4 linked regions of the Homo sapiens genome follow. The protein of the gene in region 2 interacts with the protein of the main gene of each other region in a pairwise test. Each region holds a gene or a part of one and is shown on either strand. Other genes may lie near its edges.

What was found.
Region 1: the proteins of CCDC167 (region 2) and HSD17B13 interact in binary tests that used the Homo sapiens proteins (3 or more experiments, as listed by UniProt).
Region 3: the proteins of CCDC167 (region 2) and CX3CR1 interact in binary tests that used the Homo sapiens proteins (3 or more experiments, as listed by UniProt).
Region 4: the proteins of CCDC167 (region 2) and ARL13B interact in binary tests that used the Homo sapiens proteins (3 or more experiments, as listed by UniProt).

Annotation. Positions count from the first base shown.
Region 1 is NC_000004.12:87,305,864-87,312,887, forward strand, and holds part of HSD17B13 (17-beta-hydroxysteroid dehydrogenase 13 isoform A precursor), read right to left. Parts: intron 4,497-7,024; coding exon 4,380-4,496; intron 1-4,379. UniProt on the Homo sapiens protein: Plays a pivotal role in hepatic lipid metabolism. In vitro, it catalyzes the oxidation of a variety of lipid substrates, including 17beta-estradiol, retinol, retinal, and leukotriene B4.
Region 2 is NC_000006.12:37,482,872-37,489,895, forward strand, and holds the end of CCDC167 (coiled-coil domain-containing protein 167), read right to left. Parts: intron 2,324-7,024; coding exon 2,229-2,323; intron 1,992-2,228; coding exon 1,939-1,991; intron 419-1,938; coding exon 315-418; 3' UTR 67-314; downstream 1-66.
Region 3 is NC_000003.12:39,277,023-39,284,722, forward strand, and holds the start of CX3CR1 (CX3C chemokine receptor 1), read right to left. Parts: upstream 3,015-7,700; 5' UTR 2,932-3,014; intron 1-2,931. UniProt on the Homo sapiens protein: Receptor for the C-X3-C chemokine fractalkine (CX3CL1) present on many early leukocyte cells; CX3CR1-CX3CL1 signaling exerts distinct functions in different tissue compartments, such as immune response, inflammation, cell adhesion and chemotaxis.
Region 4 is NC_000003.12:93,983,136-93,990,159, reverse strand, and holds part of ARL13B (ADP-ribosylation factor-like protein 13B), read right to left. Parts: intron 2,215-7,024; exon of another isoform or gene 1,098-2,214; intron 1-1,097. UniProt on the Homo sapiens protein: Cilium-specific protein required to control the microtubule-based, ciliary axoneme structure. May act by maintaining the association between IFT subcomplexes A and B. Binds GTP but is not able to hydrolyze fit; the GTPase activity remains unclear.

The sequences.
Region 1 (7,024 bases), on a different chromosome or scaffold from region 2:
TGATTACAGCATCAAGACATTCTAGCCTGCAAAACAGTAACTTTATTAACGTCTTGCAGCGGAGTACGTTAATAATCGTAACCATGCATTAAAACTCTCATTTCATGTCAAAAAGAGAGTAATCAGTTTTCCTCATGATTTATGTTTTACTGAATTTCATACAGTTCGTCCCTCTGAAAATGTTTTTAGGAACATTCCCTCTCCAAGGAGTGCATCTTAAGATACCCAGGTTGCTTACGACAGGTCATCTTTGGTCATTTTAAATCAATCTGTCTGAACCTATGTGTGCACCTTTGTAATATTCATAGTTCAAATTGGATGCAAATATAAATAAAGCACTGATACATACCACTCTTCTCACTCTCTTATCTGATATGAGTAAAGATCTAAAACTGAAGGTCTGAGCTCATTGCTGAAACTGCTGATTAATCTTGATGCTAAAAGCTCACCAAGAGACACCACCAGAATCCATTCTATGCAAGCCTTCACCTCTCCTTTACTATTTACTGAATATCTATTATGCACTCTATAATAAGGTAAACTAAAGTACTTGAAAAATAGCTATTGTCTTTGATATTGTTTAGCTGATAGGCTAAAATGGTCATCTTAAAACAATTATTGAAAAATATCAGCCATCTAGAATTAAGGGCTATAACTGGAAGGAGGATTCACATGGGCTGGGATAGTGGAGGAAAGCTTCAAAAGGACAACTGATGTCCAGGAATGCATAAGAGATGAGTAGGCAACTGAAAGGAAGAGAGTGGCTGGCCCGGTGGCTCACGCCTGTAATCCCAGCACTTTGAGAGGCACAGGTGGTCAGATCATGAGGTCAGGAGTTCGAGACCAGCTTGACCAACATGGTGAAACCCTGTCTCTACTAAAAATACAAAAAAACTAGCCAGGTGTGGTGGCACATGCCTGTAATCCCAGCTACTCAGGAGGCTGAGGCAGGAGAATTGCTTGAACTCAGGAGGTGGAGGTTACAGTGAGCTGAGATCAAGCCACTGCACTCCAGCCTGGGCAACAGAGTGAGACCCAATCTAAAAAAAAAAAAAAAAAAAAAAAAAAAAAGGAAGACAGTATGTGAATGTAAAGAGGCAGAAATAATAACATTCTGCAGAGAAAGTCATATTGAAAATCACTTTGGTATTGTTGACTAATGCAAGATTTACTTCCTTGTTTTGGGGGTAGGTGGGTGAAAGATGGAATGAGCAAAGGGGCAGGGAAGATCTGGCTGAAAGAAGGACAAGGATAAGAAGAGAGCTCATGTGGGCCTTTTAACTACCCTCACAAAGAAACCTTCATGCTAGTAATTGCATCTGCTCGTAAAATTGTGTCTCTCTATAAAAGGAATTAAATGCAAAGAAGATTAACAATATATACCTGTTGCCTAGTTACAAACCACCATGACAGCTTCAAAGGATACAAAAGACTTTGAGACTCTTGTTTATTTTACTGGGATACTATTCTCCAACTCAGGCAGAATAATTGTTTTTATCACCTTGGTCATATGCATGTATATGCATGTAATTTTCAATATTAATATGACTTGCTTTGGGCCCCAAGAGAGTTGGGGTTCCATGAAACTCACTTCCTACAGTGCTTAGTACCAAGACACTAATTTAGTCAACTTTTATTTTTTTTCATTTTTTTAAAAAATTTATTTTTCCGAGACAGAGTCTCCTGTTGCCCAGGCTGGAGTGCAGTGGCACAATCATGGTTTACTGCAATCTCCGCCTTCCGGGTTCAAGGGATTCTCCTGCGAGTGCCTGGTATTACAGGTGCAGGCCACTATGCCTGCTAATTTTCGTATCTTTAGTAGAGCTGAGGTTTCACCATGTTGGCCAGGCTGGTCTCGAATGCCTGACCTCAAGTGATCTGCCTGCTGTGGCCTCCCAAAGTGCTGGAATTACAGGCGTGAGACACCACACCCGGCCTAGTCAACTCGCGAGATGATGTTGCTTGGGGGTCAAGGTTCTCCTTATGTTATCTCAAGTCAGTCTATTTAAGCTAAAACCAAATACTGAAATTGATACACCAATGCAGTTTGTACCCTGTTCTCAAATTGTTCTATTTCAAGTTTGTTCATAGTTTATATGGATTTGTTTCAAAAAGGCCCAAGGCTTATGAAGTTAGTATAGTTATCTTCTCACTGATACAATTTCAATTTAGAAACTGCTCCTCAGAAGAAAGCTGAGAGAGTATTTCCTCTGGGAAATTGTTGCTGTTGCTATTTCATATAAATTCTGTTCTCTAAGACTTTAACATTTGAAGTCTATACATTTTCAGTGACAGGGGCTTTGTTTGTATTACATTATTTTATTCTTATGTCATCCTTATAAAGAAGATATTATCAGCATATTCATTTGGCCAGGTGCAGTGGCTCATGCCTGTAATCCCAGCACTTTGGGAGGCCAAGGCAGGAGGACTGCTTGAGGCCAGGCATTCAAAACCTTTGTTGCCTGGGCAGCAAAGTGAGACTGTCTCTACTAAATAAATAAATAGGCTGGGCTTGGTGGCTCACGCCTGTAATCCCAGCACTTTGGGAGGCTGAGGCGGGCGGATCACCAGGTCAGGAGATCGAGACCATCCTGGCTAACAGGGTGAAACCCCGTCTCTACTAAAAAAAAAAAAAAAAAAAAAAAAAAAAAAAAAAAAAAAAAAAAAATAAGCTGGGCATGGTTGCAGGCGCCTGTAGTCCCAGCAACTAGGGAGGCTGAGGCAGGAGAATGGCATGAACCCAGAAGGCGGAGCTTGCAGTGAGCCAAGATTGTGCCACTGCACTCCAGCCTGGGCAACAGAGCGAGACTCTGTCTCAAAAAAATATAATAAAAATAAATAAATAAATAAATAAGACATTCTAAAGACATTAAAAGGATAATAAGGGAATGTTATGTACAAATTTATGCCAAAGAAATTCTACAACTTAGATGAAATGGACAAATTCCTTGAAAGACACACATTACCAAGAATTAATAAGTAAATTGAATAGCCATGTAGCTATTAAAGAAATTAAATTTGTAATTAAAAACTTTCCCATAAAGAAAATTAGAGGCCCAGGAATCTACCAAAAAAAAAAAAGCTTATCGAGTTTAGCAAAAAGAGGTTTAGCAATTTAGCAAGACTGCAAAATATGAGATCAAATTACAAAAATCCAATATATACTGACAACAAACAATGGGAAATATAAAATTTTTTAAAATGCCACTTGCATTAGCGTCAAAAACCGTCAAATAGGGCTGGGCATGATGGCTCATGCCTGTAATCCCAGCACTTTGGGAGGCTGAGGCAGGTGGATCACATGAGGTCAGGAGTTCGAGACCAGCCTGGCCAACATGGTGAAACCCTGTCTCTACTACAAACACAAAAAGTTAGTTGGGCGAGGGGGCAGGTGCCTGTAATCCCAGCTACTTGGGAGGCTGAGGCAGGAGAATCACTTGAAGCCAGGAGGCAGAAGCTGCAGTGAGCCAAGATCACGCCACTGCACTCCAGCCTGGGCAACAAGGGTGAAACTCTGTCTCAAAAAAAAAAAAAAAAAAAAAAAAAAGAACCCGTGAAATACTTTGGAATAAATCTGACAAAATATGTGCAAGACTTAAACACCAAAAACTACAAAATACAATTTAAAGATTTAAAGATTTTGAAGAAGATTTTAAAAATAGATATTATGTTCTTGGATTAGAAAACTCAATATTGTTGATATGTCAATACTCCCCAATTGCTCTATAGATTCAGTGCAATCCCAACCAAACTTCCAGCAGACTTTTAAAAATGGAGTCTTTATTATTAACTACTTCACTATATTGCATTCTTTTTAAACTGTGTTTCCTTTAGTTAGAATAGTCTTCAGCAAAGTTTGGGCAGAGACAGTAGATTTGGTAGAGAAAATGAATCACTCTCTTTTTATAGACTGGGTAGGAAAATAACAGAGGAAATAACTGTTCTCCCCAGGGATGGAGAGTTTCCATGCCAATTTTCACAACTGAAAGATGCTCCATAATAATAGCTCTATTGGGCCAGGCATGGTGGCTCATGACTGTAATCCCAGCACTTTGGGAGGCCGAGACAGGAGGATAACTTGAGGTCAGGAGTTCGAGTCCAGCCTGGCCAACATGGGGAAACCTGTCTCTATCAAAAAATACAAAAATTAGCTGGGTGTAGTGTGGCAGCACACACCTATAATCCCAGTTACTTGGGGGTCTGAGGCATGAGAATTGCTTGAACCCAGGAGGCGGAGGTTGCAGTGAGCCAAGATCATGCCACTGCAACCACCGCAATCCAGCCAGGGTGACAGAGTGAGACTCTGTCTAAAAAAAAAAAAAGCAAAAAAAAAAGCTCTATTGGTGTTTTAGTATTTGGGTGTTCTGTGCTGTACTTACTTCTGTAGTCTCAGAAAGATATTGATATACGATGGAACAAAAATCATTTTCTTATTGGTAAGTATTCCATCTATCAGACTTCTTACGACTTCATCTGTCTCCAATACAGGCCATAATCTGTGATTAAAAAGAGGAAAATATTATTTTTATTTTCTAAAATTTTAATTTTATAAGTAAATGATGGCAGGAAAATTATCCTATATTTTTACTAAATTTAGAATGAAGATTTAAAATATTCCAGGATTTGCTGCATTAATGCCACCCTACCCACTTCCTCCACATCCCATGTTGATGTTTTGTTATCAGAAACTTATACTTTCATATCCAGTAGGTGTGTTTCATAGCTCACTTAGTCAAAATATCAAAATGGTGGCGAGGCATTAGATGGTAAGGAGTAGTGGAGCCAGACAAGAAAGAGGAATGGCTAGGATTAATCATGGGACAGGAAGGAAACATCTGACATCTCAAAGCCTGTTGGATGCAAGGAGAAAATTCTATAGCTAAGTATACTTTCTTTCTTGTGGAGGTATTCCATAAAGCTGGATTGTTTTGAGGTCGTCATTTTGTCAGAGGCGTTTAAATCAGAGCAACTCCATCTTGAATAGGGTCTGGGTAAAATAAGGCTGACACCTACTGGGCTGCATTCCCAGGAAGTTAAGGCATTCTTTGTCACAGGATGAGATAGGAGGTTGGCACAAGATTCAGGTCATAAAGACCTTGTTGATAAAATAGGGTGCAGTAAAGAAGCCGGCCAAAACCCACCAAAACCAAGATGGTGATGAAAGTGACCTCTGGTTGTCCTCACTGCTCATTATAAGCTAACTATAATACATTAGCAAGCTAAGAGACACTTCCACCAGCACTATGACAGTTTACAAATACCATGGCAATGGCAGGAAGTTACCCTATATGGCCTAAAAAGGGGAGGAAATCTCAGTTCTGGGAATTGCTCACCCTTTTCCCGGAAAACTCATGAATAATCCACCCCTTGTTTAGCATATAATCAAGAAGTAACTCTAAATACCCTTGGTGGAGCAGCTCAAGCCATTCTTCTCCATGGAGTAGCTGTTCTCTACTCCTTTACTTTCCTAATAAACTTGCTTTTGCTTTGCACTGTGGCCTTGCCCCGAATTATTTCTTGCGAGAAATCTAAGAACCCTCTCTTGGGGTCTGGATTGGAACCCCTTTCCGGTAAGAATTTCGTATTTGAGATTCACCTCTGACTTGCCTATCCTGCAGTTTAATGAGAATTTAAGAGGGGCCCAAGGAGTATGACAACTGGAGGTATGTCATACTTCCAGTTTTCCTTATACTGAAGGCTGTGTACATGTACTCTTGAGAAATATTCATAAACATAGGCTTAGTGTAGAATTGTCTGTTAGTGCAAGATGATGACAGAAAAATGGATTTAAAATGTTGTATTCAAATTAAGATGTCCAGGCATGGACTGAACAGCCAGTGAATGTAAAGGCTGGGTGAGGAGTTAGGGAGCCAGCGAATGTTAAAACTTCATTCCCTGGGATGATCTGTGGTTTGCTGCAGATTATTATGTGATTGAGTTCTCCACTGCCTTGAATAGCAAGCCAACAGAGAGTAATACAAATCAATACATTTCTAAATTACTCCGTTCTGCCCTTTCTCTCCCTGATTTCATCTACATGGATCCAACAACCCAGCCTCGGAGCCAAGTGTGACATTACATATCAATGCCTTAGCCCTTACTAAGGAAATTCACAATCTAGCAACCTCTATAAAATCAATCCCAAATATTTAGCATTGCCTGTGTCTACCTCTAAGTTAGCCCCCAGGAACCCTGTACCCAGAGTTCCATTATCCTTACTCCCCTCATCTATCATGCCTTCCCCAAGAGTGGCAGGATACCCTTAGGAAAGCTCATGGTACACGAAGCCTGAATGCCTACCAAGAGGGTTTTTATTGGGCCCAATTCCTTGTCTAAGAAAACAATCAGGAGTTGCAATAGTACTATAGTATTTACTTACATATTGCATACTTATTAAGTACTGTGAGACAACGTAGCAAATGTAAGAAGCCACGTTTACTCACTTCTGGTTGTCAGCATAATTTCACAAAGTCCCTGACTCTGTGACAATGTGCAGCTCTCTGGAAAGATGCTTTGAAGACAATACAGGATAGAGCACATGGCCCCCACTATCAGAACAGTTCAACTGAACCTCTCTAAAGGGCTGCTCTCAGGCTATAGGCCTCCGACTGTAGTCTTCAGTAAGGCTTCTAAATAAAATTAACACCTTTAATTCTTTTTTTTTTTTTTTTTTTTTTTTTTTTTGAGACGGAGTCTCGCTCTGTCGCCCAGGCTGGAGTGCAGTGGCGCGATCTCGGCTCACTGCAAGCTCCGCCTCCCGGGTTCACGCCATTCTCCTGCCTCAGCCTCCCGCGCAGCTGGGACTACAGGCGCCCGCCACCACGCCCGGCTAATTTTTTTGTGTTTTTTAGTAGAGACGGGGTTTCACTGTGTTAGCCAGGATGACCTTTAATTCTTTAAAAACTTATTTTTTTGGCCGGGCATGGTGGCTCACTCCTGTAATCCCAGCATTTTAGGAGGCCAAGGCAGGTAGGACACCTGAGGTCAGGAGTTTGAGACCAGCCTGGCCAACATGGTGAAACCC
Region 2 (7,024 bases):
GCCTCTTCCTGCCCCCACCGTCCACCCTCCGCTAGTCAGACCATGACATTTACTCAGCAGACGGGAACAGCTTTGTGTTCTTTATTGCCTCTCCCTTGGGCTAAGGGAGGGACCAGCACCATGTCCTTCTGGAGACCCGGAACCCCCCAGCAGGCCAGGGAGGCAAGGCCTGGGCCGCCAGGAAGCCATGCTTGAACACTAGGTTGGGAGGGGAACACCCCAGCACCTTGGTCCTATTGAGGCTTGAAGTGCCTGCTTGATCCTGATCAAGGGGCCAAGTGGAAGCCTGTGCTGGTTGTGGGGAAGTGCCAGGCTCACATGGTCCAGTAGGCATAGACGAGCGTCAGGAGGATAAAGATGGCCACAGAGAGCAGCATGTTCTTCCGGTTCTCTTGCCGAAGAAACTTCAGTTCCTTCTCTGGGAGGAAAGAGGGTGATAGGGATAGGACAGGCAGTTTAGGCCCGTCTGTTCTGCTCTGCCTCTCCAACGAGTGGGTACACACTGCTGAGGGCAAAGACGCACCCTTCCAGCCACCTCCTTACCCATAAAAATGACTCTGCCCTTCTTAATCTGCCCAAATCCTGACACCCTTTTGGCTATAGAGCCAGCCTGATAAAGTCCCAACGCCCAGTGCTGCTCAACTATGGCTCTTTAAATGTGGTTGAGGTTGAGGGTGAGGTGGGTGAGGAGTCACCAAAAATGCCACACCTGAAAGCCAAGCTAGGAGGTGGTGTGACCGCCAGGTGAGTCTGCTTGCCTGTCATGGGGTTGGCTGTGGTGCTCATCCTTCAAGGCATCTCATCCGCCAACCAGAAACTGAGGGCACCTGGGGCCTCCTTGGGCCTGACAGTGGAGGAGGTGCTAGGTGGGGCCACGTGTTTCCTGAGTCCCTGCCCTCTGCCGGGTGCCTGGTTGAGCAGAATCTAGGGACGCTAAGATGCAGTTTGTGTCCATGAGGCAGCTGGTCTTGACTCTAGAGGAAATCAGTCCTGCTGCTCTATGGCCACACTTGTATCAAAGTATCCCCTCCAGGTGACACGCAGGTAGGGGGTACTCTGTGAGGGCTAAATTGAGTGGTGGTGTGGTTTTGTGTGAAAACCGCTAAACTTGAAGGGAAACTAATGTCCCATCCCTGTCTGTGCTGGGCAGTGGGAAGAGACACCTGCAGAGCTGCTCTGGGCAGGCCAGACTGAGTCCAGGGCCCAGGGTGCACCGGCCCAGACATGCTGAACTCCAGGCAGGGCTGGTAGGTGTGCACTGTGCCTACGGCATTCATCAGACCAGCGCTTCTGGGGGACTCCTTGCCATTAGAACCTTCCTGGGGCTGATTCATGGCCAGGCCTGGTCCCCCAGGGGAGAACAGAACCGACAAGTCTGAGGAGCACCTATAGACCGTGGTCCTCCCCAGCCTTTAGCAGGGAGCCCACCAGCCTGCCAGCCGCCCTCTGGCGCCCCGCCGGGCCTGGCCTCTACCTGCCTCTGCCCCCAGCGCCCAGAAGGTGGCGGCATCGCTCCACCCACAGGAGCCCTTGCCGTACCCAAGTGGGAGGTTCGGCTTCCTTCACCCCTCACTTCCCACTGCATGGTTTTCCTGGGAGGGTGTGGTGGGTTGGGGTGGGGTGGGCTGGGGCGTGGGGAGAGCAGACTTCCGATGTCTAGGTGAATGATTGTCTCCTAGACCTGGCCACGGCCACATCCCTTCATCCCAAAGAGCAGACAGACCCACAGGCGGTCTCATCCTCCCTTAGAACAAAGCAACAAACCTGCTCTCCCGCAGGCTGCTGGACCTAGCAGGGGTGTCTGCAGCCTCTGGGGGCTGGTTCCCTCCCAAAGAACCCCCTTGCTCCCTGCTGCCTTGTCAGGCCCCTTGGGCTTCTGACCCTTCCTGGTTCTGGGGACTGGAGGCTGGGGCTGGTAACTGAAAGGAACTTTCTTACCGTAGTTGGAGGCTTTGTTCATTAGGCTGTTTTTCTCCTTCTCCAGGGACCTCCTGTGAGGGGAAAGGAGCTTCATGGACCAAACCCTTTTCCTTTTCCCCACCCGAGGGGCAGCTGGCATGCCAGTTGGCAGGGCTTGGGTCTTGTTCGGCGGCAGGGGGGGTGTGCACTGAAGCTAAGATGTCAGGGACCCAAACCCTCTGCCTCAGGCCTACTTTGGGGGACCCAGGATAGATACAGGGGGTGGGGGCCTGATGGGGAAGGGTGGGGTGGCTGGGCAGGAGCATTACCTGGCCTCTGGGCTCAGCTCCCGGCTGTGGAGTCTGGAGTTCACGGCCTCCAGGTCTCTCCGACACTGGGACAGCTTCTCCTCTAGCCCATCGATCTGAAACAAAGGCCACAGAGAGGTGGGCTGCCGAGGCTTCTAGCTCTCAAAACACTGGGACTGGGAAGCAGGGCCTCCGGGAGTCTTCTTGGACAGGTGTTCCCCCCATTCGTTTTGGCAGGGCAGGGCACCCAGGCCTGTCTTCCCTGGAGTGTCTTTGTTTTGCTGTCCTCTGCCTCCACGTGGTTCAGCTCTGAACTGCACAGGACAGTGGCCTGAGCCACACTGTAAACAGTAGTGGGTGTTGCCCAGGGTCTCACAGCTGTCCCAGCCCTCTGGGCCAAGCACAGGTTGGGGGTGGAGAGGAGCAGCCCCTTGGTCTGTTGTCTCCCCAGCACGATGCCCCAGTTGGGCGCACAACAGGAGCAACCAGAACCCTGAACACGGCATGCACCTGCCCCACGGGCGTATCCTAGAGTGGCGGAGATGCTGTGAAGAAACTGGCTTCCAAACACTCCACACGTGTGGGGCCGGGTGATTAGACATCTAGGGGCAACACAGAGGTGTTTTTCTCATTGACATACTTCATCTTAATAACTTAGTAGTCCAAGTTGTAAAAATATACATTTTTCTGTGAGAATCAAAAATTACTGAGAAAAATGCTCAAAAACACCTTTCTTCCTCTCTGACTTGGTTCTTAAGCAAAAACTTTACCTACCATCAAGGTAGCAAAATAGTTAAGGTATCTGTTTTTTCCATTTGTTTGATTAGAGTTTCAGAGAAGTGTTCTTGGGGAAATACTTGAGTTGTGGAGAAATGTTTAATAACATACTGGACTGGGTTGTCCAAACCTGGGTTTTGGCATTGAAAGTCCATCTCCCTGTGTCTGACTCAGTCTCCAGGTGTTTAGCTGGCCACCTCTCTGGCTGGGGCGAGCCTGGGTGTCAGTGGGTGGAAGGGTTCAGGGGGCTCTGTGACCCTCCCAGCAGCTGACTGAATAGTACCTCGGAGCCCCATAATGCTCCATTTCCCATCTCTGACTTCACTCATTCTCACCACTTCCCTAGGAGACATGGCAAATAAGACCTCCATTTCACGAATGGAAGAATGGGGGTCCCCCAAATGGAATGACTTTCTGAGAAGTCAGGGTGGGGCACCCCTCTCCTTATCAGTCTCAGCCAGTTCTCTGCCCCATTCGCTTCTGGAGTTAGCCCCTGCAGGGTTAGTAATCAATGACTGCAGGTAAGATCCCTGCCTCCCACAATGGCTGGTTAGAGGGTAGCAGGCATTCTGGGGCTGAGTGTCAGGAGAGTTGCATTCCAAGTCTCTGGGCCTTCTGTCTCTCTCCACGGCCAACACCCATCTCAGCCACTTCCATGTCAGCCACTTTTCCTTCTTCCCGAGGGAGGCCTGGCAATGACACACCATCCACCCCCTGCCCTGCAGCCCCACCATGGCCACCTCCAGCCCCATAAGCAGGGCCCTGTGGGAGAGAGCGACCACAGAGCCTTGAGTTAATTGCCTGGTTAATTGTGTCGTTTCTCTGCTACTGGGCACCCAAAAGGAGGGCTGTCCTGGGAAACAGACCCAGCCAGGAGATGGGGCTGTCCCTGGGGAGGCCAAAGGCCTACCTAGAACCTGTGCAGCATGGAAATGAACACTGGGAAGCCAGATTCAGGGAAGAGCGGCAGCCCCATGCCCAGTGCCTCAGGCCACCATGTGGCCTCCCCTTTACAGCAGCACCCCCAGCACACAGCCCAGCCCCTCAGTACCCTGAGACTCAGATTCCACTCAAGAGCACAAATAAAGCTTAATTCTTGATGCCCTACCTCCTCCACCAGGCTTCCCTGCTGCCCTTGGCTGTGGCAGGGGGGTGGGGGTTGGGGGGCAGGGGACGGGGTGCATTCCACCCTCCTTCTCCTGGGAAATTAACCAGTCCTTCCTTCATGAGGCTGAGTATATTCTTTGTTGCCCTTCTGTTTGTGTCCAAACTTTATCTTCCCAAACTCTAGGGGTCTCTAAATGGTGCCAACTGGCAGCCCGTAGGTCAGGTCTAGCCCACAGATTGGCCCATTCCACTTATATATGTGAACTGCCTGGTCCCGGCAGAGGCCCGAGTCTAAAGCTCCTGTCCTAGAAGGAACAGTGACCATCTGTCTCCTCTTTGTGCCCACCAAGGCCTAGCCTGCTGCAGTCTTTGTATTTTTAGCCACAATGAGTGGAGTTGAGCTTGGGTGGGACTGAGGGGCAAGGACAGACGGTTTAGGTCTCACGTAGCAACTGGAGCCTGAAACCTCCGTTCTTCTTGTCCATAGAAGCTAGAAAAAGCTAGGAGGAGGAGAAGCAACTAGACATGCACATAAATTGTACGCTTTGCAGATTGCCCAGTGCAAGTCTTAGTCCTAGGTGAGATTTCTCCTTAACAGTCCTTGAGCCAGGCCTTGGTTTGCGTGTCATTCTGGGGAGGGAGCAGATTGCGGAATTCCATCCCTGAACACCTCTGGAAGGCTACCAAGTGCCCAAACAAGTGGTAATTGCCCCCAGAGCAAGGCCAGGAACTCATGCTAAGCAAAATCTTAAAATTTTGAGGTTGGCAAACCACAAGTGGCCAAGCCAATCTGCTATCATGCTCTGGGCAGAGCCTGCGGAGCTGGCAGTCGGGGGCCTTTATCTGAACAAGCCCAATTTATCTGCAGTTCCACTGAATATTCCCACTTTCATTTGCCACTTTTTAATGAGGCTTAAACGGTCGAACACAAATCAAGGTTTTAGGGACTCAAGTTCTAACCTCCCTCTATGAATATTTATGTCCTGCTGACAGCTCTCGCTGATTCCCTTCTAAATAGCAAGTTCCCCTTCTTTATAACCCAGCTGCTTGATGTGGGCTGAGTGAGGGGAGGCTAAGACTGTCAAGAGGCTCTTCAGAGGCCACAAACCCATCCTCAGAAGGTGACCCTGCGGGGTCCCCAGCACTGGGCCTGGTTCGGGAAGCTGACAATCAAACACCCTGCAGCATTTGCTGAAGCAGGAGCCAGCTGTCAACATGAGTGGAGAGACTCCAGGGGACCTGGCTGCAGAGGCAGGGAGGGAAGGTAGGTCCAGATGCCTCTTTTAGTTGTGGCTGGGGTCAGGAGTGGTGGCTACAGAGCAGAGCTGACACAGCAGGATGGGCCTGAAAGGTGGGAGAGGACCCAGAAAGTGGGTCTTAAAGGAAGTCCCGACTTGGATTTTCAGCCAGCTCTCAACTACATGCACACGGATTATGCACTTTGCAGACGACCCGAGGCAAATGTGCAGTCGTTGGTTAGCTCTCTCCTTGCCACCACCAGGCTAAAGGCAACGGAAGACAAGACAGCCAGGACCAGGAGAGAAGATGTGGGGATTAGGACCAGATAAGGAGACAAATGTCAAGAAGATTCTAGAAGTGTAAGGGCCAGAACTGGGCAAGCAGTTGGGAGCTCAAGTGCCCAGAAGCCTGGAATGGTGGTTCCAGGTAAGTGAGTGGTAAGGAGCATGGGCTATAATCAGTGCCCCTGGCTCTGTCACTCACTTGTGGTATGACTGGGCAACTCCCTTAGTTCTGTGCTCAGTTGACTCACGTGTAAAACAAAGATAACCACATTTCATATTTCAAAGAGTTTTGTGAGGATGACATGGAGCCAACAGGTAAGATGCCCAGAACATGCTTTACATGGTCAGAGTTCAGTAAGTGTTTGCTATCTTTATTATCAGAGAGTGGTTTGCACTAGATCTTTGGAGAATAAAAGAAAACCTGGTTAGTCCATGGCAAGAGTAAGAGAAGGTGATAGAAGCAGGGGTGTGGCTGGGCATGGTGGCTCACGCCTGTAATTCCAGCACCTTGGGAGACCAAGGTGGGCGGATCACGAGGTCAGGAGATCCAGACCATCCTGGCCAACATGGTGAAACTCTGTCTCTACTAAAAATACAAAAATTAGCCAGGCGTGGTGGCGCACGCCTGTAGTCCCAGCTACTCAGGAGGCTGAGGCAGAAGAATTGCTTGAACCCAGGGGGTGGAGGCTGCAGTGAGCCGAGATGGCACCACTGCACTCCAGCCTGGGTGACAGAGCGAGACTCTATCTCAAAAACAAACAAACAAACAAAAAAAAACAGCAGGGGTGTGAGGTGGAGAGGAATCTCCATGAGTTGCTGACTGGCAGTGCAGGGAGGAGGGCCCCTCTACCTTGGATGTGGCCATTCCCAGTCCATGAAGAGGTTCAGCAGGGAGGGCCCCCAGGGTAGATGTCAGAACAACAACAGGCCACAGGCCAGCTCGCTCCGCTTACTCCAGACATGGCATGGTGGGAACCTTGCGATCCTTCCCTGGGACAAAGCTGGGGTGGGCCTCTGGAGCCAGGGCCAGGTTGCAGACATGGCACCTGGTAGAATCCTAGCGTGAGAGGCCTGGAGCCATGTCCAAGGTGGAACAGCCTGGGGGCGGTCTGGGCATCAGTGGGCATCTGAGGAAATGTGGAACAGCAGGTGAGGCCCAGCAGCCAGAGCCAGGGCTCACTCACACCATGGTTCTAGGCAGCCTGAAGAGGCCCCGTGGAAGGGATCCCACCAAGCCCAGTAGGAAGGGAAAGTTATACTCTGAAGGCCACAGGGGCTCCCAGGACTCCTGCCCGACAGGCTGCATAGTAGGGCCAGCTGGCAGGAAGAGGCATGCCTGGCTCAGGGGCCAGGACTTGCCTGGAGCTATCAGGGGGCAGCACTTACGGCTGTGACTGTGACCGGCAAAGT
Region 3 (7,700 bases), on a different chromosome or scaffold from region 2:
TTTCAGTGTGTTGTATTTTGCAATAAACAAAATACAACACACTGAAAAGAGACTTTCCATTTTCTCCTTAAGCACACTTTAAGGGGAAAACAAAGGTGGTCTAGGAAGATGTTTAAAGACATATGATACAGCTTTTCTTCCTTACTCACAAGCTAAAAAGCTGCACTTTGGCCAAACAAGATGAGGGGGTCGAAGCATCAGCTGTGGCCAGCGTGCCGTGAGAATCCCACCTGTGAAGCAGCCAGCAGATTCTGAGCCCCTCAAGAGGGCAGGTGGGATCAAGGTTCAGCTAGAAGCCCCAACTTTCCCCTGGCTCTTCTGGGCAGAGTGAGTGATGCCAGAGAGCCCAACTTCTCGGAATGCCTGGGCTGTGCTGCTAGGAATCAGAACAAGTCCTTGGGAAAGGCAGCCAAGATCTGGATTCTGCCATTCTGGTTCCACTCCCTCCTATGACCGTGACCTGCTGTGGAGCAGCAGAAGTTCCCCTCCTTGTTCAGCTCCTCCATTACAGGTGCTGGTTCCAAACGTCTCTGGACTCAGGATACTGGGTCAGAGGCTGGGGCTGGGGAGGAGCAGTTGGATGCCTGGATCCCAAGAAGGAGGTTTTTTGAGGCTAGGGTCTCTGGCTAGGGAGAACCATACCTGACATTGCCACTGTGCCATAGCTGCCTAGGGCCGGGCAGGCTTCCTCCTGGGATGGGGTGGGGTGAGGAAGGGGATAGACGATCGTCCTGACTGGGTCAGCTCTAATACGTTCTTTGCTTTCCTGCCCCTACAGCTCTGGATTCTTCACAACCTCATTCAATAGTAGTCAGTGTTTTTCAGGTATCCAAACTTTCTGAGGCTCAGTTTCCTCATGACAACAACATATATCGTTTCTTGAGCATCAAAGATGGGTCAGGCAGTGTGTTTGGGACTTCCTATACCATGCCTTTAATCCTTGCAGAAAGTTGACACATACCCATTACATGGCTTCAAAGGCTGATGGACAATCTCCATTTTAAAAGCAGGAAACAGACTTAGCAAGCCCAGTGCACAGTCACCAAGTGCAGAGCCAGGACTTCATTCCTGACTTCATTCCTTCATTCCAAAGCCAAGCTGCCTATGTCCCCATCTGTGAAGTGGGGCCAGCTGAGGAGCAGGGTTCAGGAGCAGACTTTGTGGAGACTGGCACGTGGCTGATGGATAGTAGGTGCTCCCATCCCAGAGGTGTGGCAAGTGCCAGGTAAGCCTGAGCACTAAGAAGAACCACACTGAAGTTGGGCTGAGACTATTTCCTGCCCTGCCTTCCTTTGTGAAAATAAAGCCAAGCAAAGAGGAAGATGAAAGAATCCACCCTAGCCTTCCTGAGCCCATTTCTCATTCCCAGGGGTTTTGAACCCCAATCCACTGCCCCCATTCCCAACCCACAGTGGTCCTCAAGGCTCTCCAGCACAGGTCCGTCACCCACCCTGCCTCCTCTCAGGAAACCCAGCTCCCTCCAAAGCGCCCTCTGGGCCTGGGATGCCCTGAGCAATGCAAGCTTTCTTGCCTGCTTTCACGTGGTTCAATTTTCCTTTTTTTTTGGCTCAATTTTTTTCTGCCTCAAGTTTTCTACCTCAAGTATTTCAAAAATTAATTTTTTTTTCTTTTCTTTTTTTTTTTTTTTTTTGTGGAGTGGGTGTTGAAAGAATCCTAAACTTTCTTAGCCATTCTCTGGACTGAGCTATAAACTCACAAAGCAAGGATTGCAGGCTCTGTGAGGCTGTGATTGCCAGAGGCAAGGCAAGAGAAATAACAAGCCGTGGTCAGTCCTCAGCTGGGGCCTCTGATGGATTTCCTCCTGTCTTGCACTCATAATTTCTTTCTGAAGACCATGTTTTCCACCCACACAAACCTGAGCCTGAGTATCCTCACAATGGTTATAACAACATATATCAAAATTGAACACTAAATTTGTGCCAGGAATTTATTAATGGAGAAACCCCGCCTCTACTAAAAATACAAAATTAGCCGGGCGGTGGTACATGCCTATAATCCCAGCTACTTGGGAGGCTGAGGCAGGAGAATCACTTGAACCCAGGAGGCAGAGGTTGCAGTGAGCCGAGACTGTGCCATTGCACTCCAGCTTAGGCAACAAGAGCAAAACTCCGTCTCAAAAAACAAAACACAAACAAGAAAGAAAACCCAAAAAACAAAAAACAAACAAAAACCCATAGATGGTACAAAAAGTGGAAGAAAAAGGAAAAAAAAACCCATGAAACTATCTGCAATGCAGTTTCCTAGAATCAACCACAGTAATCTTTTAGCTTTTCTCTATCTAAATGTTATACATATTTTATATTTATATTAAGTGCATTTATATTTATATTAAAATACAGATACAAATTTAAAAACTCTTTATTATTAAATTTTCAAATAAAAAGCAACTTTTCAAATAAAAGCAGCGAGAACCTCCTTATACCCAACACCTGGCTTCAACTATTAGCAACCCATGGTCAATATTTCCTCTATTTCCCACTTAATGTCTCTACTGAATTATTTAATTTCACCCATAAACACTTGTGTGCATCTCTAAAAGTTAAGGACTCTTTTTTGAAAAAGACTTTAATACAATTTCTCATCTCAAAAAATTAGCAATAATTCCTCAACAGCATCCAGATGCAATTTTTCATGCTTTTTTCAGTTAGTTTAAAATCATGAGCTTTTCTCCATGTCTCTAAAATGTAATTACTAATGCTTCTAATACTATTCCACCAGGTTGAGTGTATTATAAATGATCTGATCACCCCTTGCCTCCCACTCTTCCATCCCCTTGGACATATTTAGGCTACAACATCCCCAGGAAAATGGTTTCCATTGTCTGCACGTAAGCAAACAGGCATTATTAACCTATTAGCTGTCCACTGCTCCACCCCACCCACAGGTACCCAACTAGTCCTGTGCACCTACCTGGCGTGGACTGCCAAGGGAACCTCTGGATCTGCCAGTCAGCCACCCTGTCCTGCTCAGACTTTACCAGAGACGAGTATTTCCCTTTCCTTCCCTCTAAGAGCATTTTATTTGCAGAGTTAGCCAATAGTATCTTGTTTCCTGTAAGGGAGACTATCTTTAGATGCTGCCACAGGCAAGCTCAGATACTCCAGGGTGGAGGCCAGCTGCCAACAGGAGGGCCTGACTTTATAAACCTGGAAGATCTAAACCTCAGGGAAGACTGCGGAGCTGGAGGGAGAGAGGTGCCACTTACCCCAACCTGGAGGTGGGGGGCAGGGAGCAGGCCCTGCAGTCAGCAAAGCACAGCACAGTCAGCTCTCATTAATGGGGAGCCTTCAGGAAGCTGGGAGAGCTCATGGGGCCCTCAGCTTCCCTGCCCACGAGAGGGAGCCCAGAGTACTCACTGGACCACACTGGGGCACACACAGCTCTTCTCCTCAAAGTGCAGTCCCAGGCACTGGGAGCTTATTAAAGACAGCACCTCAAGCCCTGCCCTATATCTGCTGAATTAGAATCTGCATTTTAATGAAATTCTTAGAAGAGTGATATGCATACTAAGTTTGAGAAGCTTTGGTACTGAAGGCATCTAGTGAGTACCTTGCACCTTGTAGATGCTCGGTAAATATTTTTTTCCTCACCTCTCTGCCCCAAGGCATTTAGTGGCTCCCTATACCCATCAGTCAAGGCTGAGGACACAGCTTTCACCCAGGACCTGGCCTATGCTCCTTTCACAGTCTCTCCCCCTGCCACTCTTGCCCTGCAGTGGGGAGCCTGGTGGGCTCCGGCATCCAGCCATGCTTCTGCTCCCTGGCCTGGCCAGCTTGGGGCGACTGCAACGTGAATCTCAACTGCCACTGCCTCATCACCTTCCGATCACTTCATTACCTGCCTGACCCCTGGCATATGCTATATAATTCTGATCCATCCCTAACTAGGGCCTGGCCCATGGTGGCCTTCAATACACCTTCATTAAATGGTCTGTGACCCCTTCAAGGCCCCTCTGGCCCCTTGCTGCCCACATCCCAGCCACATCCGGTGCTCCCTTACCTCTAGTCGCTGTGGTGTTCCGAGGACAGCGGGTGCTCTGTGTGCTCCCCACCTTGCCCCTCCTCACCTCCCCCAACCCCAGGACAGAGCTGGGGGCTGCAGTGCAGTGCTGCGGGCTTGGTGGCCTGCTCATGGTGGAAGAAGTCCACCAGCAGTTTTCTTTCTTTGTTCTTGGTCTCAGTGTTTGGCCACCTTTCCCTGCCTTTGGCCAGAAGGCCACAGGACAAAAGCAGAGTCAGGCCGCTCCCCATCCACTTTCTGACACTGGCCCCTCCCCACCCCACACCACCCCTTGATACCTCTCCTGGGGTCCACTCAGCTGGGCTGGCTGCCTCAGCCCCTTCCTTGCCTCTGACTCCCCTCCTCTTCTGAGGGCTCCTTTCTTGGATCTGGCCAAGACTCTCCCTCTCTTCCTGTCCCACACTCTTGACGACAGTCTCATCCACCCCACATCAGTAATCCCCTCCGTGTTCATGAGCACACATCTCTACCTCCATCCAGGGCCTGGATAATTTCCCAAGCCCATCTAACCTTCTCCGTTCTCTGTCTTTCCTCTCACCACTTACCCCACTGGCCATTCTCCACCCAGAAGCCAGAGAGCTCTTCCTGAAATCCAAGTCTGCCAACTTAAACGCCTCCAGGGGTTCTCTCATCCTGGTTTAAGTCCACGGCCTGGTAAGCACGGCCCGCCCCTTCTCACTTCCTACTGTGCTCTCACCACTTCCACTTCCCCCAACATGCCTGTGCCCGTGGCAGGCTCTCTTCCCTTCCCAACTCACCTGGCTGTCCTGTCCAGGACGTGATTTTACCCTCTTTTAAAGCTAACGGCTATGTTCCACAGCTGCTAGCAGCACAGGGCTTCATGCTTGGCAAGCATGAGAACCAGCGTCCAGTGTCAGTTGCCTTGCCCCCAAGCCCCACAGAGTGATGCCATGGCTTGGATAGATACCTGTGAATGTGTGAGGGATGGGGAGGTTATAGGAAGGGAACTCTGACCTTGGGTAACGTGCCATTTTATAGCAAGCAGTAAGCAAGTCGGTTATTTGGCCCTGAGCGAGATGTCAGCTCATCCTTCAAGGTTGCTCACTGCAAACTCAACCCTGCAAGATGGACCAAGTGAAGAGCATTAGTGCTTTGCATTCTTGACACACTCATGGAGACAGAAAGAGCCTTGGCAGCCTTCCCCCTCCCTCCACGCCTCCTTGGGCCTCTGTAAAGGAGTCTCTGGCTCAGCGCTGGGAATTCTCTCCTCCCTGAACTCTTGTTCAACCCCTCCCCCGTACTCTCACTCTGGTACAGCCTTATTCCTTAGATCCCCGTCTTCATCTCTCTTTCTGCCCAGCCCCTTTGGCTTCACTCTCTGTTGGAGCTGACCCTTGTTCACAAGTTCTTTGTCATTCTGCATTTCTCTTCCAGTTGAGACAGTAAATGCAGAGGACAGTTTGGTTTCTGCTGGGCAGAGAAATGAGAGTGTGGTGGGCTGGCTCAAAGGCAGGAGGCCAGACAGAGAGGCTGTGAGGATGGTGGGGACACCCTGGACAGTGATGGGTGTCCCCACCCATCACTGCAGGCACCCATCACACAATGCAGGCAAGGACTGGAGACTTGGTGTGAATAAAGCTTTGTGGGAATGTGGGGTAGAGATGCAGAAAAGGAGAGTGAGAATGTGATTCACCTTAATTGCCAAACCAAGATACTTCCATGTTCTTCTGTGGGCCCTGGAGAAATTTGGGAATAATTACATAAGCAGTTGTGCAGCACTAGGTCTGCCTGAGGCAATGTCCTAAGTCCTCGATGTACATGAACTCATGTAGTGCCCCCAGTGACCCTATGATGCAGGTGCTAATGTTTTTGTTTTTGTTTCTTTCAGACAGGGTCTGGCTCTGTTATCCAGGCTGGAGTGCAGCCACATGATCATAGCTCACTGCATCCTTGATCTCCTGGGCTCGAACGATCCTCTCACCTCAGCCTCCCAAGTAGCTGGAACTACAGGCACACATCACCACACCCAGCTAATTTTTGTATTTTTTGTAGAGACAGAGTTTCGCCATGTACCCAGGCTGCTCTTGAACTCCTGAGTTTGAGTGATCCTTCTGCCGCAGCCTCCCAAAGTGCTGGGATTACACGTTTAAGCCACTGTGTGTGGCCGCAGGTACTATTATTATCCTCATCTTATATGTGAGGAGTTTGAGACAAGGAGGAGAAGTTATGTAACTTGTACAAGACCACACAGCTCATGTGTGGTAGGGCCAATATTTGAACTTAGCATTGAGGTTTTATGGTCTATGCTGTGCATTCTTAGTAGAGGTGGTATTACTTCCAAGGTGGCGAAAATTGGTTCTGGAAGGTTCTTGTGCTTTATGTATAAAACACAGATATACATATAGTAGCTAAACCAATAGCATATCTGTGGAATAAAATTCCATGGTAGGGGGAGGTGAGTAAGAATGTAATGTGGGCCAGGCATGGTGGCTCACGCCTGTAATTCCAGCACTTTGGGAGGCCAACGTGGGTGGATCACGAGATCAGGGGTTCAAGACCAGCCTGGCCAAAATGGTGAAACCCTGTCTCTACTAAAAATATAAAAATTAGCCAGGCGTGGTGGCGGGTGCCTGTAATCCCAACTACTTGGGAGGCTGAGGCAGGAGAATCGCTTGAAACCGGAAGGTGGAGGTTGCAGTGAGCCGAGATAGCGCCACTGCACTCCAGCCTGGGCGAAAGAGCGAGACTCCATCTCAAAAAAAAAAAAAAATTATATATATATATATATATATATATATATATATATATATATATATAATGTGGTTAATAGGCACAAAAAATACTTAGAATAAATAAGACCTAGTATTTACAAGCACAACAGGGGCACTATAGTAAAAAAAATTTAATTTACCTTTACAAATAACTAAAAGAGTATGATTGGATTGTGTGTAACACAAAGGATAAATGCTTGAGGTGATGCATACCCCATTTCCTCTGATGTGATTATCACACGTTACATGCCTGTATCAAAGCATTTCATGTAACCTACAAACATATACACACGCTATGTACCCCGCCACACACAAAAGAATATAATATCTAAAAGGACTTGTTGGGGAGTGATTAAAAAAAGCTGAGAAACCATTGTCTAAGTTTTTTTTTTTTGTTTGTTTGTTTTTAGACAGGATTTACTCCCATCACCCAGGCAGAAGTGCTGAGGTCCGCCTCCTGGGTTCAAGCTATTCTTCCACCTCAGCTTCCCGAGTAGCTGGGATTACAGGAGCCTGCTACCACATCTGGCTAATTTTTGTATTTTTAGTGGAGATGGGGTTTCACCACGTTGGCCAGGCTGGTCACGAACTCCTGACCTCAAGTGATCTGCCCACCTTGGCCTCCCAAAATGCTGGGATTACAGGCGTGAGCCACTGCGCCCAGACAAGAAACCCTTGTCTAAGGTCTTAATCAGACCACTCTGCTACCTCCCAGTTTAAAGTCTGGGGATTAGAGGGTGACATGACAAAAGTAGTCTCTTCAGAAAAATCAATCAATGGGTGGGTGTGAGGGAAACGGCTGCATAAAAGGGAAGGAAAAGACGTACATCAAGGACTTCTCCATGCCAGGCCCTGTGCGAGGCACATTGTCCATTATATCTCTTTTTTACTTTCACTTTCTAGTCAGGTATTATTTTTTCCATTTTC
Region 4 (7,024 bases), on a different chromosome or scaffold from region 2:
GGTGGCGCCCACCTGCAATCCCAGCTACTCAGAAGGCTGAGACAGGAGAATCACTTGAACCCAGGAGGTGGAGGTTGCCGTGAGCTGAGATCGTGCCATTGCACTCCAGCCTGGGCGACAGAGGGAGACTTCGTCTCAAACAAAACAAAACAAAACAAAACAAAAAAAAGAGATACTCAAACTGTATTATCAAATAATTAATGATGTAACCTTTCCAGAAGTTGAAAGTGAGCCGCTTACTCCTAATATTATAGTCATCCCTGGGTCTTTGATTACTAGAAAGGCTGAGATACAAAGGACTCTGTAGTATTATAAGATTTACAGTATGTTATACTAGTAATAAGTAACATAAGAGGTATTATGGGTACTCTGAAATGTAGCCACAAATTTGGTGTTAGAGACCTGAGTTCAAGTGCCAGATTTGCCATTTCTAAGCTATATGGCACATTACTTTTCAGAATTTCATGAATGAAATAGGATAATAACAATAGCTACTCTAAAGGGATATAATGAAAATTAAATAAGGTTTCAATGAGCTGGGATCATGCCACTGCAGTCTAGCCTGGGTTGACAGCATGAGGCTGTTTAAAAAAAAAAAAAAAAATTAACCATAGCATTTTTCTGCTTAAAATCCTTATAGAGAATCAAGTCTCAATTTGGCAGCCCCCACTTCTGCCACTCCCAGGAAGCCTGCCATGCCGAGGATTCCTTCCATGCCGAGTACTCCTTCAGCCCTTCACAACCATCCCCGGCTACTTTTTATACAGGCTCCTCTACCAGAACTTCTCTTTATCAGCTCTGTAGTGCCTGTATCAAATGTGTTGGGCACACAGTAGGCTTCTTTACTGAAAGAAACAACAAACATTTTCTGAACCCCATTTGCTGAGTAAATACTAAGTAAAATTAAAATACATAACTTTAGATTGAGAAAGTACTATAATGAAGCTAATTTATATAAATCTTCACATCAAAATAGTTCATATTAAAGAATGTAATTATATCCATATATATCAAATTGGCTGAAGTTTTCTGAAAAAGCTTACATGCTCATGGTTTCAAGGTACTAATTAACAGAAAGACTTTCAAAACTGAAATAGGGGTCTCAGCAGCTCGGGCAGCGGGAGGAGTGCCAGTAGCCAGGCAGCCCAGCTTCGCGAAGGCTCTCAGCTCCGTGGCCCACAGGTGCCCAGCAAGTGCCCCTCCTGCCGCCAAGATGCCCAAGAGGAAGGTCAGTTCAGCCGAAGGGGTGGCGAAGCAAGAGCCCAAGAGGAGATCTGCGCACTTGTCAGCTAAACCTGCTCCTGCAAAAGTGGAAATGAAGCCAAAGAGGCATCAGGAAAGGCTAAATCTTCAGATTAAAAAAAAAAAAAAAATGCAAACAAATGGGAAAAGGGGAGCATAGGGAAAACAGGCCAAAGTGGCTAACCAAGAAACTAAATAAGATTTACCTGCAGAAAACGAAGAAACTAAAACCGAGGAGACTCCAACCTTTGATGAAGCAGGAGAGAAAGAAGCCAAGTCTGATTAATATCATATACCATGTCTTATCAGTAGTCCCTGTCTCCCTTCTTGTACAATCCAGGGTATTTTTATCAACTGCTTTGTAAGTGCAAGTCTTTTAGTAGCTCTAGAAACATTTTAAGTAGCAGGAACTCCCACCTCATTCCATTGTTAAGTTTTTTCTGAGGTGAAATAATTCTCTGGTTGTTTATTTTTTGGTGAAACCAGAGAATAGTATGGGATATTGAATTACAGGAAGTTTTGACTGTCTTGGATGTCAGCTTAACATTCCACAGATGGGGGCTTAGTTTTTATATACTGTAATACAAAATATACTAAATGGCAATACAGAGTCAGAATCCTGCATTTAATGTCTTGAACATTTTAAATTACTTCTATTGCCATGTTTTTTTTTTTTTTTCACAGAATTGTTTCCTAAAGAAAACCACTCCTTGATCATGGCTCTCCCTGTCAGAACTGTGTACACTATAACATCTTTGGTCACAGAAGTCCTGATTTCCTAATAACTGTGTTAATGTGCTGTGAAAGATTGAAAATTTGGGTATATAGTGTACATGCTATTAAACTGTGAATTGGTAGAACGTGTACAGCTTATCAAACACTTGTAGATACTGGCTCTTGATAATCCTCTTAAGAAAAATTTGCCTCCAAATGTTAAGTTGGAATGTCACTATAATAACTATTTAAAAAAGAGGCCGGGTGCAGTGGTTCACACCTATAATCACAGCACTTTGGGTGGCCAAGGTGGGAGAATTACTTGAGCCCAGGAGATTGAGACATGCCTGGTCAACATGGTGAGACCTTGTCTCTACAAATTAAAAAAAAAAATTAGCCAGGCATCGTGGCATGCACCTCCCAGTTACTTGGGAGGCTGAAGTGGGAGGATCGGTTGAGCCCGGGCAGTCAAGGCTGCAGTGAGCCGTGATCACTCCTCTGCACTCCAGCCTAGGCAATAGAGAGAGACCGTTTCAGAAAAAGGAATTACAATAGAGGTTTTCTAGATTTTTGGTATGTATGTTAAGAATTGTGTACAATTTGAAATGTCTGTATACTTATTCTCAACACGACAAATAAAATCTCCATTACAAAAGAAAAAACTGAAATAATTCTTAGTAAAAACAAAAAAAAATCAAAGGTAGAGATTAAGGGATCCAAAGGTCTGTTTTACATCACTTTAGCTATCTGCCGAAACAAGTGAAGACTTCCATACTCCAGAAGCTAATAATTAATATTGTTCAAGTCAACACAATGTATATAATAGATCTCCTAAGTGAGAATATGAGAATATCTTATCTCAGAATTCCTTTTTATATAACGGATATACAAATTAATATATCAGAAATACTGGTCAGGCACAATGGCTTATGCCTGTAATCCCAGTACTTTGGGAGGCCAAGACAGGAGGACTGTTTGAGCCCAGGAGTTTGAGACCAACCTGGGCAATATGGTGAGATCCTGTCTCTATTTAAAAAAAAAAAAAATCAGAAATATAAGCATCATGGCATTAGGGAGGATTGAACTTAGAAAACATTTAAATTCTGAATCTTTCCTGAATGACATTATCACAATCATTTGAACACCTACAAGTCTAAACTTCCTCATCTTTTAACTAAGGAAGACAATACTTTCAATATGATAATTAGATAAAAGCTATTCCTTTTTTTTTAGAGACGGAGTCTCATTCTGTCACCCAGGCTGGAGTGTGCAGTGGCGAGATCTCCACTCACTGCAACCTCTGCCTCCTGGGTGCAAGCAATTCTCCTGCCTCAGCCTCCCAAGTAGCTGGGATTACAGGAGTCTGCCACCATGCCTGGCTAATTTTTTGTATTTTTAGTAGAGACAGGGTTTCACTATGTTGGCCAGGCTCATCTCGAACTCCTGACCTCAACTGATCCATCCACCACGGCCACCCAAAGTGCAGGGATTACAGGTGCGAGCCATCATGCCTGGCCCATAAAAGCTGTTTCTAACTTCAAAAATATTATGCAAGTCAAAGAAAACATTTCGCTAAAAACACTAAAATCAAAGTTTGACACATCGGAACTCTATTATCTACAGTATTTAAAACTACATGAAGCAAATTCTAAATTTTAACATAAACATAAATTCTAAAAGTAACAAATACATATACAAAAAAAGACTTTAGAACAAGGTTTTATGATACATATGTGAGAATTTTAAAAAATCACTATACGACAAATTGATAGAAAGAAAAAAATGTATCGAAAAAACAGTGTGATTTTATTGCAGTACACTATTTTCTGACATTTCAATTCAGATCTAGAACCCCATATTACAGCAAAATCATTATCTAAATTTACTGAGTATGAATAAATAGTGAGAAGGCCAAGCTTGGGTTTATAGCCTGCTTTTAAGCCCTGATCAAGTCAAATTCTTAGTGTCCATTTTTTCATCTCTAAAATATAAGGGGGTAAAATAAGAATGTCTCTAGGTCCTTTTCTATATTAAAATTCTAAAATTCTTACTATGCATAATCAAGAAGAACTAGGGGGATAAAAAGAGATGTAAAATATTCCAGTTCAGCATACAGCACAATAGATAATCCTTGCTAATCTGTACATACAGCTTAATTGGAAAATTAAGAACTCAGCAATTTCTATAAATGGTCTAGATTTACAGTTATATTTATTTAGGCCAAGAATGATGGTATTAGGGAGCTAAGTATTCCCTCAGTGAAAAAGTTCATAGCAAAGAGGACAAAACAGACCACTAGAAACATTGTGTACTGTATCTTATTTTAGACTTGGCCACAGCAAACAATTTACTAATAAATTTGAAGTAAAGCTTTGATAGGTTGTATTTGTGATGCTGAAAAAACACAGATGGACAAGAAATCAGTTCCAATTAAAGGTTAACTCTGTGGAAGAATGGTGGGAGATGAATAGGGGGCAGGAAGTTTCAAGGATTTGTTACCTACTTATTAAAATAAAATTGAAATATGATGACTAAAGATTAATATTTATAAAACCTGGCAGGCATATGGTACTTATTATATCTTTCTTTTTGGTTAAATAACAGTAAAAACATTTTTGTTAGTTATGTATGCATAATATATAAGAAGTTATATAACATGTATATTTTCATATAAACAAAGAATTTTGTTGCCAAAATTTGTATGCAAAATTTGTTGCATGAATTTCTTCAAGACCCAGGTAAAATTACACCCCTTCTAAAATCCTCTTTCCTGATTCTCATTAAAAATCTTAAAAATCATATTTCAACTCTTGCATATTCGATCATTATATTTTACATGCACTATTTCATCACCTAGATGCTATGTTATAAATAACAGGAGCTCAAAATCTGTAGATGAGAATGTGTAAGGGTTAGAATCTGCTATAAGGCCCAGAGATTTACTGAGCATCATAGCTTCACAGACCTTGTGTCCTGTACTCAGGATGAAGGCTGCTCCCTATAAGCTAAATAGATTGCAATAGATTAACAGTTTTTAATGTTAAAAATGAAAATATAAAACTACAAGAAAAAAGTATATGTGAATGTAATCTTGTAATGCTGATGAACTTTCTAAACATTACACTGAAACAGTAATATATTTGAATTTAAAATTTTTATTTAGTCTTATTGATTGATTGATTGATTGATTGATTGAGACAGGGTTTCACTTTGTCACCCAGGCTAGGCTGCAGTGGGGCAACCTGGGCTTACTGCAGCCTCCACCTCTTGGGCTCAAGCGATCCTCCTGCCTCAGCCCCCCAAGTAGCTCGGACTACAGGCACATGCCACTACTTCTGGCTAATTTTTTAAAACATTTTTGTACGGATGGGGTCTCACTATATTGCCCAGGCTGATCTCAAACTCCTAGGCTCAAGCGATCTTCCCAAGTGCTAGGATTACAGGTGTGAGCCACCACACCCAGCCTGAATTCAAACATTTTAAATGTTTATATTTAAAAAGCACAAAAAGTTGAAAATATAACAAATGGAAAGAAAATACTTGCAATATTATACAACTGATCCTTGAACAACACACGTTTGAACTGCACAGTTCTACTTACACACAAATTTGTTTTTAATGAAAGTTACACGTGTGCCTTCCTCTCCTGCCTCCTCTGCCTCCCCAGCCTCCATTTCCACCTCTTCTGCCTCTGAAACCTTCCTGAGACAGTAAGACCAACCCCTCTTCCTCTTTCTCCTCAGCCTACTCAATGGGAAGAAGATGAGGATGGAGACTTTTATGATGATCCACTTCCACTTAATAAATAGTCAATGTATTTTTTTCTTCTTTTTAATTTTTTTTTTTTTAGACAAGAGTCTTGCTCTGTCGCCCAGGCTGGAGTGCAGTGGCATGATCTCAGCTCACTGCAACCTCTGTCTCCCAGGTTCAAGTGATTCTCCTGCCTCAGCCTCCCAAGTAGCTGGTATTGCAGGTGCCCACCACCACACCCAGCTAATTTCTGTATTTTTAGTAGAGACAGGGTTTCGCCATGTTGGCCAGGCTGGTCTTGAACTTTTGACCTCAAGTGATCTGCCCACCTCAGCCTCCCAAAGTGCTGGGACTACAGGCGTGAGCCACCGTGCTCCGCCCCTTATGACTTTCTTAACATTTCCTTTCCTCTAACTTTAAGAATACAATAAATTATACATATAACATAAAAAATATGTGGTAACTGACTATTCATGTTATCAGTAAGGCTTCTAGTCAACAGGAGGCTATTAGTAATTAAGTTTTTTGGAAGTCAAAAGTTATATGTGGATTTCTGTCTGTGCTGGCAAGGCAGGGTTCAGTGCTCCTAAACCCTGCGTTGTTCAAGTGTCAATTGTACTACAGAGAAACAGTAGCTACGACAAACACTTAAAATTTCTTTTTAAAAATTCATTAAGAAAACACACCTGCCCCAATAGAAAAAACACAACAGTAATCAATGGACAACTGCTGAGAGAAACAAAAATGCGCAAGGAAAAAAAGTTAATCTTCCTAGTAATAAAAACAAAACAAAACAAAAAAAACCCCAGAAACTCAAAGCAGAAAGCAGGTTCCCCTATAATGTGAAGGAGATGAAAAACCGATGACTCTTGATTTTCTCAGTGAAAAAGGCACTCCAACGTACTGTTGGTAGGAGTAGAAACTGTGTTTTCTCTTTTTTAATCCTTTCTGAGGAGCAATTTGGTAACATATTTTTAAAAGATAAACTTAGGAACAATAAAATTTCAAGAGTTTATTTCCACATTCATTGATTCATGAATGGAGCCGTACCAAACTGAACCAAAATTCATGAATGGGGCCATACCAAACCCCAAATAAGTGGGGTTCAGTACTCCACTAAGGGGGATGAAGCGTTAAACTTTTATAAGATCTTGACTGCTGACCTAGACTGGTGCCTTAACACTTGATCTCTGACTCCTGCCTTGTCCTTATCACACAAATCTAATCCCTGATTCCAATGTCTGGAATAATATGCTCACTAGGAAAGGATCTAAGTGAGGAGAGGTGAACAAATACAATGGGTACTGGGGTACAGAAT